Linked DNA regions of Homo sapiens: region 1 is reported to be linked to region 2. Evidence: microRNA targets listed by miRTarBase, many of them from high-throughput screens and not tested one by one. Region 2 holds a microRNA gene; the other region holds the end of a gene's coding sequence.

Region 1 (5,369 bases), not on the chromosome of region 2:
CGACGGAAGTGGCAGCGCACCTGGCATCTTCTTAAGTGTGTTGTCTTTCATGAACTCGTGTGACCCCTCACAACATGCCTGTGAGACACGCAGGGCTAGAGCCACTCTCCCCATGTGACAGATGAGTGAACAGAAGCTCAGTCCAACAGAGCAGGTCTGGCTAGAATTCAGGTGCTTGACTGCCTTCCCTTTCTCCTTCCTCCAGGCAGGTCATGCCGGTGACACACTGCGTCAGGCAGGCAGAGAAAGGCAGCATAACCACTCAGCATAGCAGCTGCTCTGTGTATGCCTCTGCTTGGTGGTTTGCTGTGTGCCAATCTTCTGCTAAGCAATCACATCTTTCCCGTAATGTTGACAGCAACTCTCAGGGGTTGAGCTGAACCAACCTTTTGTACATATGGGAGCTGCAGCCCAGAAGGGTTCAGCCCAAGGCTCCACAGCTAGCAAGTGGTAGAGCTGTGTTGGGACCTAGCTCTGGCCCACCCTCTATGCCCACTAGTCCCTTGGTCTCAGGCTGGGGCAGGGGTGTGGAGGATGTTGGTCTTCCCTGTCCTCATGTCTGTAGAGTACATCCCCTCACCCCGCCTTCGGAGGGAGGCTGGCTTTCCCTGGAGACGGACCGCCACCTGTTTTATGAGAGGTAGCGGAGGCCTTATGGAGCCTCAGGGCCAGCCGCTCTGACGCATGGCTTCCTCTTGAAGATGAAACCTTGCTCCACCTTCTTCCTCCCTAACCCCAGGTGGAATTCCCAGAGGCCCGAATCTATGAGGAGACACTCAACGTCCTACTCTATGAGACTCCCCGCGTCCCCGACAACTCCTTGTTGGAGGCCACAAGCCGTAGCCGCAGCCAGGCTTCCCCCAGTGAAGATGAGGAGACCTTTGAACTGCGGGACCGTGTCCGCCGCATCCACGTCAAGCGCTACAGCACTTACGATGACCGGCAGCTCGGCCACCAGTCTACCCATCGCGACTGACCAGACCCTCAGGGAGTCAGGGCACGGGAGGCCCTATCTCCCATCCTGTGGAACCCGCCCCATTGGCCACCCCATGCTGCTGCTGCCTGGGTCTCTGCTCTAGCACCCAGAGGCATGACAGGCCCTGCTCAGAGGTCAGAGGGTCTGGGCAGAGGAGGGACCACATTCCCCTGCCTTGCCCCTGAGCACTTCTGGAGACTGCGTCCTGTCCTATCTGCTCACCATCACCCTTCCTGCCCGACGGAGCTGCTTCTGCTCCCTGGGGCATATGGACTGACCCACCTCCTGCTGAGAACCTTCCCCTAGGCCCTGTGCAGAAGGCTACTGCCCCTTAGGCCTCAGCTGGGGGAAAGGCAGTTCTGGTGCTGTAGAGGCCCTGGTGCAGAAAGTGGGACGTCTTTTTTCCTAAGGTGTTTAAGCACAGGCTTGATAAGTTTGGTTTTTAAAAAATAATCTAGGAAATGAATAATTCTAAATCTAGTAATGAGGAAACTGAGCATTTCTTTTGCCCTCCAGGGTGCCAAGACCCTACATATGACAGAACCCTTGGCCCTTCTCCATGCCTGTGGGATCTGTTTCTTTAAAGCACTTTGTACTGTTATTCAGGAGGTTGATAATCTCCTTGACCCATGTCTTTCTACCCTAATCCCCACTTCCCTGCAGAATCAATCTGAGGGAGGGGATAAAGAGGAAGCAATAAAAAAAAAACATCCGACAGAGCAGCTCTGGCTTTGCAGCCTGGCCAGCAGCTCAGAGTGCACCGAGGAGGGAAGGATGGCTAAGCTGGGACCGGCAGTCCTCACAGGGTGCCTGTGAGAAAGGACATTTTACCCCCACATCATAGTCACATCACTGACTCCTAGGTCTAGCACGACTGCTCTTTGTGATTCTCTTGAGTACCCTTGGCTTCCAGCCATGCTGTCCTCACATACGGTAAAGCCAAAGAGCTGTCACATGGGCCAGAAACATGAGCCACGGCAGGAAGACCGTGGAGCCCGTGGGCACTGCATGGTGTTGGCTGGCATGCCCATCAGCTGAGGACAGCAAACTCCCAGCAGCCCCTACAGAGGTGGCACATGCTTGGCCACACATCTACTCCCTGCCCACACCATCTATGCTCTTGGTTGGTGCTGGCTGGGATGGCGGTTCTGCCCAGTGGTGTCTCTGAGCGCGGGATGACAGGAGCAACCGAAGCACCCTGAAGGCCTTCACTCCTTGTTGGGTAACTCAGCCATGGAGATGCCAAGCACTAGCCAGGAGGTGAGTTCCTCTTTAGGGCTTTGGTTTTCATTCCTTTTTGTTTGGCTTGGCCAAACCAGAATTCAGCTTATCTGAATTATTTTCCAAAGGAATGCTGTCAGGGAGGGACTGTTCTGCCAGCCTAACAAAGCAACGTAGCCACGTATAGTACCCACTTTCTGCTCTTTGGAGAGAACACAGGTTATCAAGTTCATCTCTCTTGACTACTCTTATGATAGCTGATGCCACAGAGCCTATGGGCAAATGCCAGACCCAGGGTTAGACACAAGGACCTGAAGTGACATGACGGCGGGACAGGGGAAATGTGACTTTCTAATTAGGCATTTTATGTTAGTCACAGTCTTGAATGTATAAACAGCACTAAGACTCTCAGGTCAGGTACCTTGGTGATCAGCTACTAGTTCTTCCAGCCCTCATTGAGGTAACAAGATAAAGACAAATCCACTTCTTTGGCCAAATTCAGGCTTTGGCTTTATGACTTTCCCACAGAGACTGGAATGCGTCAGCCTGAGACCACTGGCCTATTTTCTCAGCTGCCCTCTTGAGGTCCTTTAACACTCAAATTCCCAGCTCCCCACTGAGGTGTTGTGATGCTTGCCTTTTGACCTCCCCATCCCCTTTAGTCCCTGCTTACTACTTTGACATTCACATCCTCAGTGTCTCAGTCTTTTTTGCCGAGAAAGCACAGTAGTCTGGGACTGGGCATTTATCTTCTCTGACTGAAAATCTCTCCTTGGTCTTAAGGAAAATACTAACATTGAACTCACTGACATGATCTTAGCTTCTTTAATCAGACTTTGTGACTTAAAAGTTTGGGGGTTTTCTTTGAAAGTTTCCAGCCCTATTCAGAAAGCAACTCTTGGCTGTGTGCATTTTTCAACTCCAAGCAGCCCAGGGGTAAGTAAACAAAGTATGGATGAAGGTCAGATTTTCTTGTCAGTTTCTGAGAAACCTGGCAGCCTGCTGTTAACAACACAGGCCAGTATTGGGTTTTATTGAATTTGGTATGTGACCAAGGTCGGCCTAAAGGATGGCGCAGGTCCTGGGCAGGAAAGAATTTTTCCTTTATCACATAACTGTAATATTTGGTTGCTCAGCATAAGTGATGGAAGCAAACACTAATTTCTAATAAAATTGTGTTAAACTCAATGGTACAGAGCCATGTTTACAGTGAGCAGGCCTTGACCAGCTTGCGGCCATGGGCTGAGTTCCTGTGCTTCTGTTTATCATCTGACCTTGTGTTCTAGCCAGGTCGTAAGCGCGACTGTACTGTTGCCCTGCAACCCCAGCTCCCCCTGGAGGACTAAGGACAAGAATAACAAGGGCTGGAACTGTGATTTAATATTAATTCAAGAAAACTACCTCTAACAATCACTGCAGTGGCGGAGGAAAAGAAATCCTAAGAATTGGGGCAAGATGCAGCACAATTCATCTCTGGCTCTTGGAAATCTGAGAGAAGCTCAGGAAGTAGCTTGACTTAGTCATCAATCCATACCTAAAGCTGCTCCTCAGCCAAATTCCTGCATTTGTGGTCTGGATGCTTGGCAGAGTCATGCTGAGGGCTGGCACACCCATTGCTCCAGGAAACCCGACTGGCTTGCCTCCCTCCTCTCCTGGGCCTAGCGAGGCCAGAAATGGCAATGGTCGGTCAGTGCTAAGAGCCAGGCCACTCCGACCCTGACACTGGCCTCCCTCTCTGCATTTGGCAGAAGGTAAAGTGAACAAGAGTCCAGTCCAGCACCCCCGCCAACTAGCTGAGAGGCACAGTGACCCTAGGAGATGTCCAGCCAGCCTCCAGGCTGAGAGGGAAACAGGCACATGCCCTACCAGGGGGGCAGCTCCCTGGAAGGGCAGCAAAGAAAGCAGTCAAGGGCGCACACTGGGTCAGAAGGGGAGCCTGAGACTCTGGGAGCAGAAATGGCAAGGGTGGCCAAGCGTGCACTGGTTTACTGATCAAACCTCACGTGACAGGCCAGGAAACTCCTCCAGGCCTGTGGCAGCTGAACACAGTTCCTTGGTGGAGAGGTTTACTGGAACATGGTGTAGGCAGGGCTTATGAGGAGGCCAGCCTTGGAGGTGTCCCACATGGGTCTTCTGAAGAAAAGTTATACCACCCCTCCCCACAAAAAGAACCCCACAATCAAATTAAGAGACCCACTGTGGCCCATGATGGGGAGAGAAGAGTTCTGCAGCAATTGTGGGATGAGAGTTGTTCTTCCCGGTGACCAAGCCTGGGCACTTGGGGCCTCAGCTGGCCTACCAGTGAAGGCCTGAGGGTGGTGTCTTCTCATCTTTATTGCTTTCCAGGGAGAAGGGAGGAATCCGAACATCAAAGTGGGAGCCATCAGGTCTTTCAAAGCGGAACGTGCCCCTACAGTCAGAAAGAAGCTGGTTTAGAAGGAGCCAGGGCTGAGGCCTCCTAAGGATCTGGATGGCCCCATGCCCTCAGCTGCCAGCCACAGAGGACATGTGAGCCTGAGCTCTCTTCTATCTCTAGCTCATGACAGGATGACTGGTCCAGAGACCCAAGAGCCCCTCATGGTTATCCATGAAAAGAAAAACACAGCTGCAGTGGCTCACGCCTGAAATCCCAGCATTTTGGGAGGCTGATGCCAGCAGATCACCTGAGGTCACCTGAGGTGGGGAGTTTGAGACCAGCCTGACCAACATGGAGAAACCCCGTCTCCACTAAAAATACAAAATTAGCCGGGCGTGGTGGCGCATGCCTGTAATCCCAGCTACTCGGGAGGCTGAGGCAAGAGAATGGCTTGAACCTGGGAGGCGGAGGTTGCAGTGAGCCAAGATTGTGCCATTGCACTCCAGCCTGGGCAATAAGTGAAACTCCATCTCACAAAAGAAAAAAGGAAAACACAGCTGTCCAGATTCTGGCCTTTAGATACATACTGCATAAGCTAGCCAACTGCATTTTCAGGTAAAGGAGTGAAACACCAAGGGAAAAAACCCAACTATACAAGCAATTCTGCAGCATCAAATCACCAGACCTCTTTAGCCTAAGTCCTCAGTCCACAAATCACAGGGTACTGGGAAACAGGCGGTAATAGAAAATCAGACAAGTCCCACACAACAATATAGCAGATAAGGCTCCCTCTAAGAATGTAACTTGGCCCAGAGT
Region 2 (5,369 bases):
TCGCTCAGCAGCTCTTGCTGGAGTTCAAGGAGATGACAGTTCACTCTTCTTTCCCCATCTGCCTCAGCTGCCCCACGGATGAAACCGTCCTCGTGCATGAGAATGGGAGAGATCACAGGGCAACCTTCCAATTCAATGCTTTCCGGTTCCAGAACATCCCCAAACTCTCCAAGGTGTGGTTACACTGTGAGACGTTCATCTGCGACAGTGAGAAACTCTCCTGCCCAGTGGTGAGCTGCCTCTCTCCAGAAGGACAATGTTACCTAAAGGGTGCCAGTATTGGAGGAGCTGGAGTTTGAGTGGGGAGATCATAACCAGGCCAGGGCAGCTGTGTGCTGAGGACATCTGGAGGAAATGGCACTGAGTATAAGGGCAGATGCTCGTGAGGGCAGATGCTCAGGGCCCTATCTGCCCTGCCTCCAACAACCCACATGGTCTGGCATGTGTCGCCTAACCTGCTGGGACCTGCTTTCTCATCCTTAAGCAAAGTGTGTTAAGTAATGATGGCCCTTCCCTCATCAGAGGGCAGTGTAGGTAAATGAAAGTGATAACAGACTTGGAAATACTTGGAAGAAGTGAAAAGGGCAAGGGAAATTCAAGGTCTAGGTGGCAGGGACAGGCCGTGGAAATAACTCAAAAGGTGGGTGTTTTTAGTCTTGACTGAACAGCCCGAGGGTTCACCTCTGTGACTTCAGAGAGATGCTGCAGAAATTCCCGACACTGGATCATGGCTGATTTGACCACGTGAGAGGAAGGCCTGGGCAGGCTGTGCTTTAACAAGCCAGCAGTCATGCCGGTGCTCACTCAAGCCTGAGAACCACCACTTAGACACTTAGACATGCCAAATCTCAAACTGTTCTCCTTTCTGGTCTCTTTCAACTGGAGACCTCGGTGTTTCCAAAGAGGCTGCTATCCACATAGCCTATAGTAACCAACAAAAATAAGGTCATAATCTCTATTGCTGTTGTTTCATTTGGCCAGAAAATGGTTCTTTATGAGCACAAACAGCAAAAGGGAAAGAAACCAGAGAGTGCAGAGCCAGGGAGAGGAGGGGAGAGACACTGTACAGTTGATCAAAGGATAAGTATCAATGCCATATTTTTAAAAAGAAAGAAAAGAAAATGAACCAGAATACAATTGCAAGTGTCCACTTCTCTAATTATTGTGGTGAGAGTGGTAAGTAGAAGCCTTATCAAAGGAAATGGGATCAATCCCTTCCACACTCAATGACCTCTTCCAGAAGGATTCCCTCTGGCTTGAAGAGTTAACAAAGTAAAGCTTTCTCTTTGTATTCAAGTTGGAGAAGGGATGAACAGTGTGTCTTCTGGGTTATTTTTTAAAAAGGTAACTCATCTCTGTTGACTGGGGAATTGTGACTCCACCCCATTTGTGACCTTTTTAAAATATCTTTTCTTTCTCTTTTCTCCCCTTTGCTCACGCATCATCCCACCTTCCCCGCTTCTCTCCTGTCTGCCTCTCTGGGTCTTCAGACCTGCGATAAACGGAAGCGCCTCCTGCGAGACCAGACCGGGGGAGTCCTGGTCGTGGAGCTCTCCCTGCGGAGTAAGCGTCTCTGTTTTCCTCTGTTTTCCAAACGGTTGAGTTCACGCTGGGCTGCGTCCACAGGCACAGCCGGTTTGAGCATTTTTACTGAATTGCCAAACCAGTCGTGCCTGTGGGCACAACCTTCACCTGCTCCTGGAGTCTTCCAGCCAGGGGTGGGGAACAGCTCAAGCCAAACGAAGGAGTTGAGGTTTGTTATCTACTCTGAAAGTTCTAACTGCACCCTAAATTCAAATACCCCCAAAGAATCAGGAAGTGCTGAGCTTCCAAACAGAGCATGCAGTGAACAATAATAATAGAAAATGAGATGTCATGGGGCCGGGCTCGGTGGCTCACGCCTGTAATCCCAGCACTTTGGGAGGCCGAGGTGGGCAGATCACTTGAGGTCAGGAGTTTGAGACCAGCCTGACCAACATGGTGAAACCCCACCTCTACTAAAAATACAAAATTACCTGGGCTTGGTGGGGCACGCCTGTAATCCCAACTACTCGGGAGGCTAAGGCAGGAGAATCACTTGAATCTGGGAGGCAGAGGTTGCAGTGAGCTGAGATCGCGCCATTGTACTCCAGCCTGGGCAACAAGAGCGAAACTCCGTCTCAAAAAAAAAAAAAAGAAAGAAAGAAAAAGAAGAAAGAAAGAGAGACAGACAGACAGACAGAAAGAAATAAAGAAAGAAAGAAAGAAAGAAAGAAAGAAAGAAAGAAAGAAAGAAAGAAAAGAAAGAAAGAAAGAAAGAAAGAAAGAAAGAAAGAAAGAGAAAGAAAAAAGAAAAGAAAAGAAAGAAGGAAGGAAGGAAGGAAGGAAAAATGAGATGTCATGAGAATGTCATGTGCAAGTCAAAAAACCTTTACTGAGTATCCAGCACTGCCTGGCCTGGCAGGGCACTAGGATTTCAGAAATAAATGTGACCCAAGCAGGCCCTGTCCTCAAGGGATTTACTGTCTAGCAAGGAGAGAGATGTTAGACACTAAGGGAAAGAGAAATTACTGTTAAGGAGGGTGACAGTGGGCTGGTGCCATGGTTGCACAGTTGATCATCACTAATGTGAAAATCCAAAATCCGAATGCTCCCAAATCTGAAACTTTTTGAGCACCCACATGATGCTCAAAGGTCATGCTCACAGGAAATGCTCATTGTAGCATTTTAGATTTCAGATTCCAGGTTTTCCAGTTAGGGATGCTCAACTAGTATAATGCAAAGATTCCAAAATCCAAAAAAAAATCTGAAATCTGAAACACTTCTGGTCCCAAGCATTTTGGATAAGGGATATTCATCCTGAATGGAGCAAAGGGATTCAACCTAGTACAGGGCTTGCAGAAGAGCTCTGCTGACAATCTCCAAGTGAGACCTGAAGGATAGTGTGACATGAAGGGTGGGCAAAACCTGTGGGAAGGCGGGAAGCTGTAGCGGCTCTATCTTAGAGGACAGTCACCAAGCTATGGCCAAGGGCCAAGGCCCAGGTGCCACCTGGTTTTGTGGCCTGGGAATTAAGAACAGTTTTCACGTTTTTATGTGGTTCAAAAAAAGAATCAAAACAACAATATTTCGTGACATGTAGAAATTACGTGAAATTCAGGGCCAGGCATGGTGGCTCATGCCTCTAATTCCAGCACTTTGGGAGGCCAAGGCGGGCAGATCACCTGAGGTCAGGAGTTCGAGACCAGCCTGGCCCTGTCCCTACTAGAATACAAAAATTATCCGGGAGTGGTGGTGCACACTTGTAGTCCCAGTACTTGGGAGGCTGAGGCCAGAGAATCACTTGAACCTGGGAGGCAGAGGTTGCAGTGAGCAGAGATCACGCTACTACACTCTAGCCTGGGCAACAAGAGTGAAACTCTGTCTCAAAAAAAAAAAAAAAATTATATGAAATTCAAATTTCAGTGCCTTTAAAGAAAGTTTTATTAGAACACAGCAACACTCGTTCATGTAGATATTGTCTACAGCAGTGCACTGCAACTACAGGTGGATTTGTGGTAGCAGAGATGGGATGGCCTGCAAAGCTGACAAAATGTACTATTTACTTTTTTCTTTTCAGAAAGCTTACCAACCCCTGCTTTGGAGAGAAAGCGTTGTGAGATGAAACTTTGTAAACCCCCAGTATAAACTGTCTGAAAGGCAATGGAGCACCTGATGGTTTAATCAGGGGAGGATTGTGGTCAGGTTTTGTGTTTTATTTATTTATTTATATTTATTTTTTTGAGACCGTGTCGCCCAGGTTGGAGTGCAATGACGTGATCTCAGCTTCAAGCAATTCTCCTGACTCAGCCTCCTGAGTAGCTGGGATTACAGGCACGTGCCACCACATCTGGTTCATTTTTGTATTTTTGGTAGAGACAGGGTTTCATCATGTTGCCCAAGCTGGTTTCGAGCTCCCAACCTCAAGTGACCCGCCCACCTGGGCCTCCCAAAGTGCTGGGATTACAAGTGTGAGCCGCAGCCCCCAGCCAGGTTTTGTGTTGTAGAAACATCACTCTGAGACTTCTCCTTTCCATGATCTTTTCTTAAACTTTCTGCATTCTCTCTTTACTCACTACAGGCAGGGGATTTTCCAGTCTCTATAGCTTCTCAGGTAAGGAAAAGAGACACTTCTGGGATTTCGTGGGGCTATGCTGTTAAAAGGCAGAGAGTGTTTTAAGAGAAGCTTAACTTTGGCCCCGGCAAAACTTTTAAGGATTGAAAATTATACTTTAAAGCACACCTGAGTGGCGCAGAGGGGGCGAGATCAAGAGGTCTCCCTCTGACCAGCCCCTGAACTCTGAAGAGAGGGAGGAACCGAAGGTAAATCGGATGAAGCAGAACTGGACCTCACTTCCCCAAGTCTTAGTAAAGCCATCCCCAGATGGCTTCCCTTGGATTCCAACATTTACAGAACAAGATTTTCAGTGATCTGTTCATTCAACAAATATTTGAATTCTTGTTATGGCTCTGTCTTTTATTAACTGAGTGACCTTGGGCAATGACCTCACCCCTCCTCCATACCCTAGTTTCCTCTGTGAAATTGGGCTAATAATTGCCCCTATCTACATGGCTGTGGTATAGATATTTAATTACAGCTAAGGGCACTGAACAATGCCCAGCAAACAGCAAACACCCAGTCAGGGTCAGCCATGATTATGATGACTGTACTGGGAACTGGTCTTGTGGCTACTGCCGTGAACAAGACAGACAAGGCCCCTTCCCTTGCCAATATGTGTAGAGTATTTGGGGTTCAATGGGGGACGTGATTTAGAGAGCAGCCAGGGAAGCCCCTTAGAGGAAGAAACATTTCAGCTAAGACCCAAGATCTCACCTGAATGATAAGAAGGAAGCAACTACATGAGGAGATGGGGTAAGACAGTTCACTTATTAATAATCTCACAGACAGATTTTGCTCTCATCATTACAGGAGAATCATGTAAATCAACTTTTAAAATTCCAATCCTAGATTCTCATCGTTTTTAAGTTCTACACTGAAAGCCCTAGAGTACCATGCACCATCACTGATTTCTATTTGTCAGAGGTCCACAACCTAGGTTTATCTGTCAGGTTCTTTGTACTGATAAATGTGAGCTACAGAATCCCCAAGGGATGAACAAAATCGACTTTGTCTAAAATGTGTGGAATTTTATGAAGACCCCTGAGTTAACTCTTCTGTTGAGTTGGCTTTACCCTTGTAGAACTGTCTCTGAGTGCCATCTCCCTCCCCTTCTGGTCCACAGATGTTCTCCACCACCTCATCATGATGTTGGGGATTTGTGCCGTGTTATAGGAGTTAGCCAGGCAGCTGCCGCTCCTCCACCCACAATAGTCCTCAGCGAATGACAAAC

Evidence for each region. The annotated mature microRNA hsa-miR-6715a-3p reads CCAAACCAGUCGUGCCUGUGG and lies in region 2 at 1,659-1,679, shown strand. An mRNA with a match to its seed (bases 2 to 7 or 8) in the 3' UTR can be bound and repressed. Matches are read on the target gene's strand: a 7mer-m8 pairs with bases 2 to 8, a 7mer-A1 pairs with bases 2 to 7 and ends in A, and an 8mer does both.
Region 1: the mRNA of POLDIP2 is a reported target of hsa-miR-6715a-3p. Seed matches in the 3' UTR shown: 7mer-A1 at 4,190-4,196.

What each region holds. Positions count from the first base shown.
Region 1 is chr17:28,343,625-28,348,993 of GRCh38, forward strand. It overlaps POLDIP2 (DNA polymerase delta interacting protein 2), which reads right to left. Exons shown (of 11, transcript NM_015584.5): 11 at 3,009-4,607. The coding sequence ends at 4,493. TNFAIP1 (TNF alpha induced protein 1) reads left to right here. Exons shown (of 7, transcript NM_021137.5): 7 at 740-3,385. The coding sequence ends at 976. LOC124903963 (a long non-coding RNA gene) reads left to right here and starts at 4,606. Exons shown (of 2, transcript XR_007065687.1): 1 at 4,606-4,705. RefSeq lists enhancers at 564-1,067, 1,571-2,074.
Region 2 is chr10:112,298,002-112,303,370 of GRCh38, forward strand. MIR6715A (microRNA 6715a) reads left to right here and starts at 1,611; the gene lies at 1,611-1,689. TECTB (tectorin beta) reads left to right here. Exons shown (of 11, transcript NM_058222.3): 8 at 68-230; 9 at 1,491-1,563; 10 at 4,100-4,132; 11 at 5,262-5,369. The coding sequence ends at 5,311. It overlaps MIR6715B (microRNA 6715b), which reads right to left and starts at 1,687; the gene lies at 1,611-1,687. RefSeq lists an enhancer at 4,370-4,664.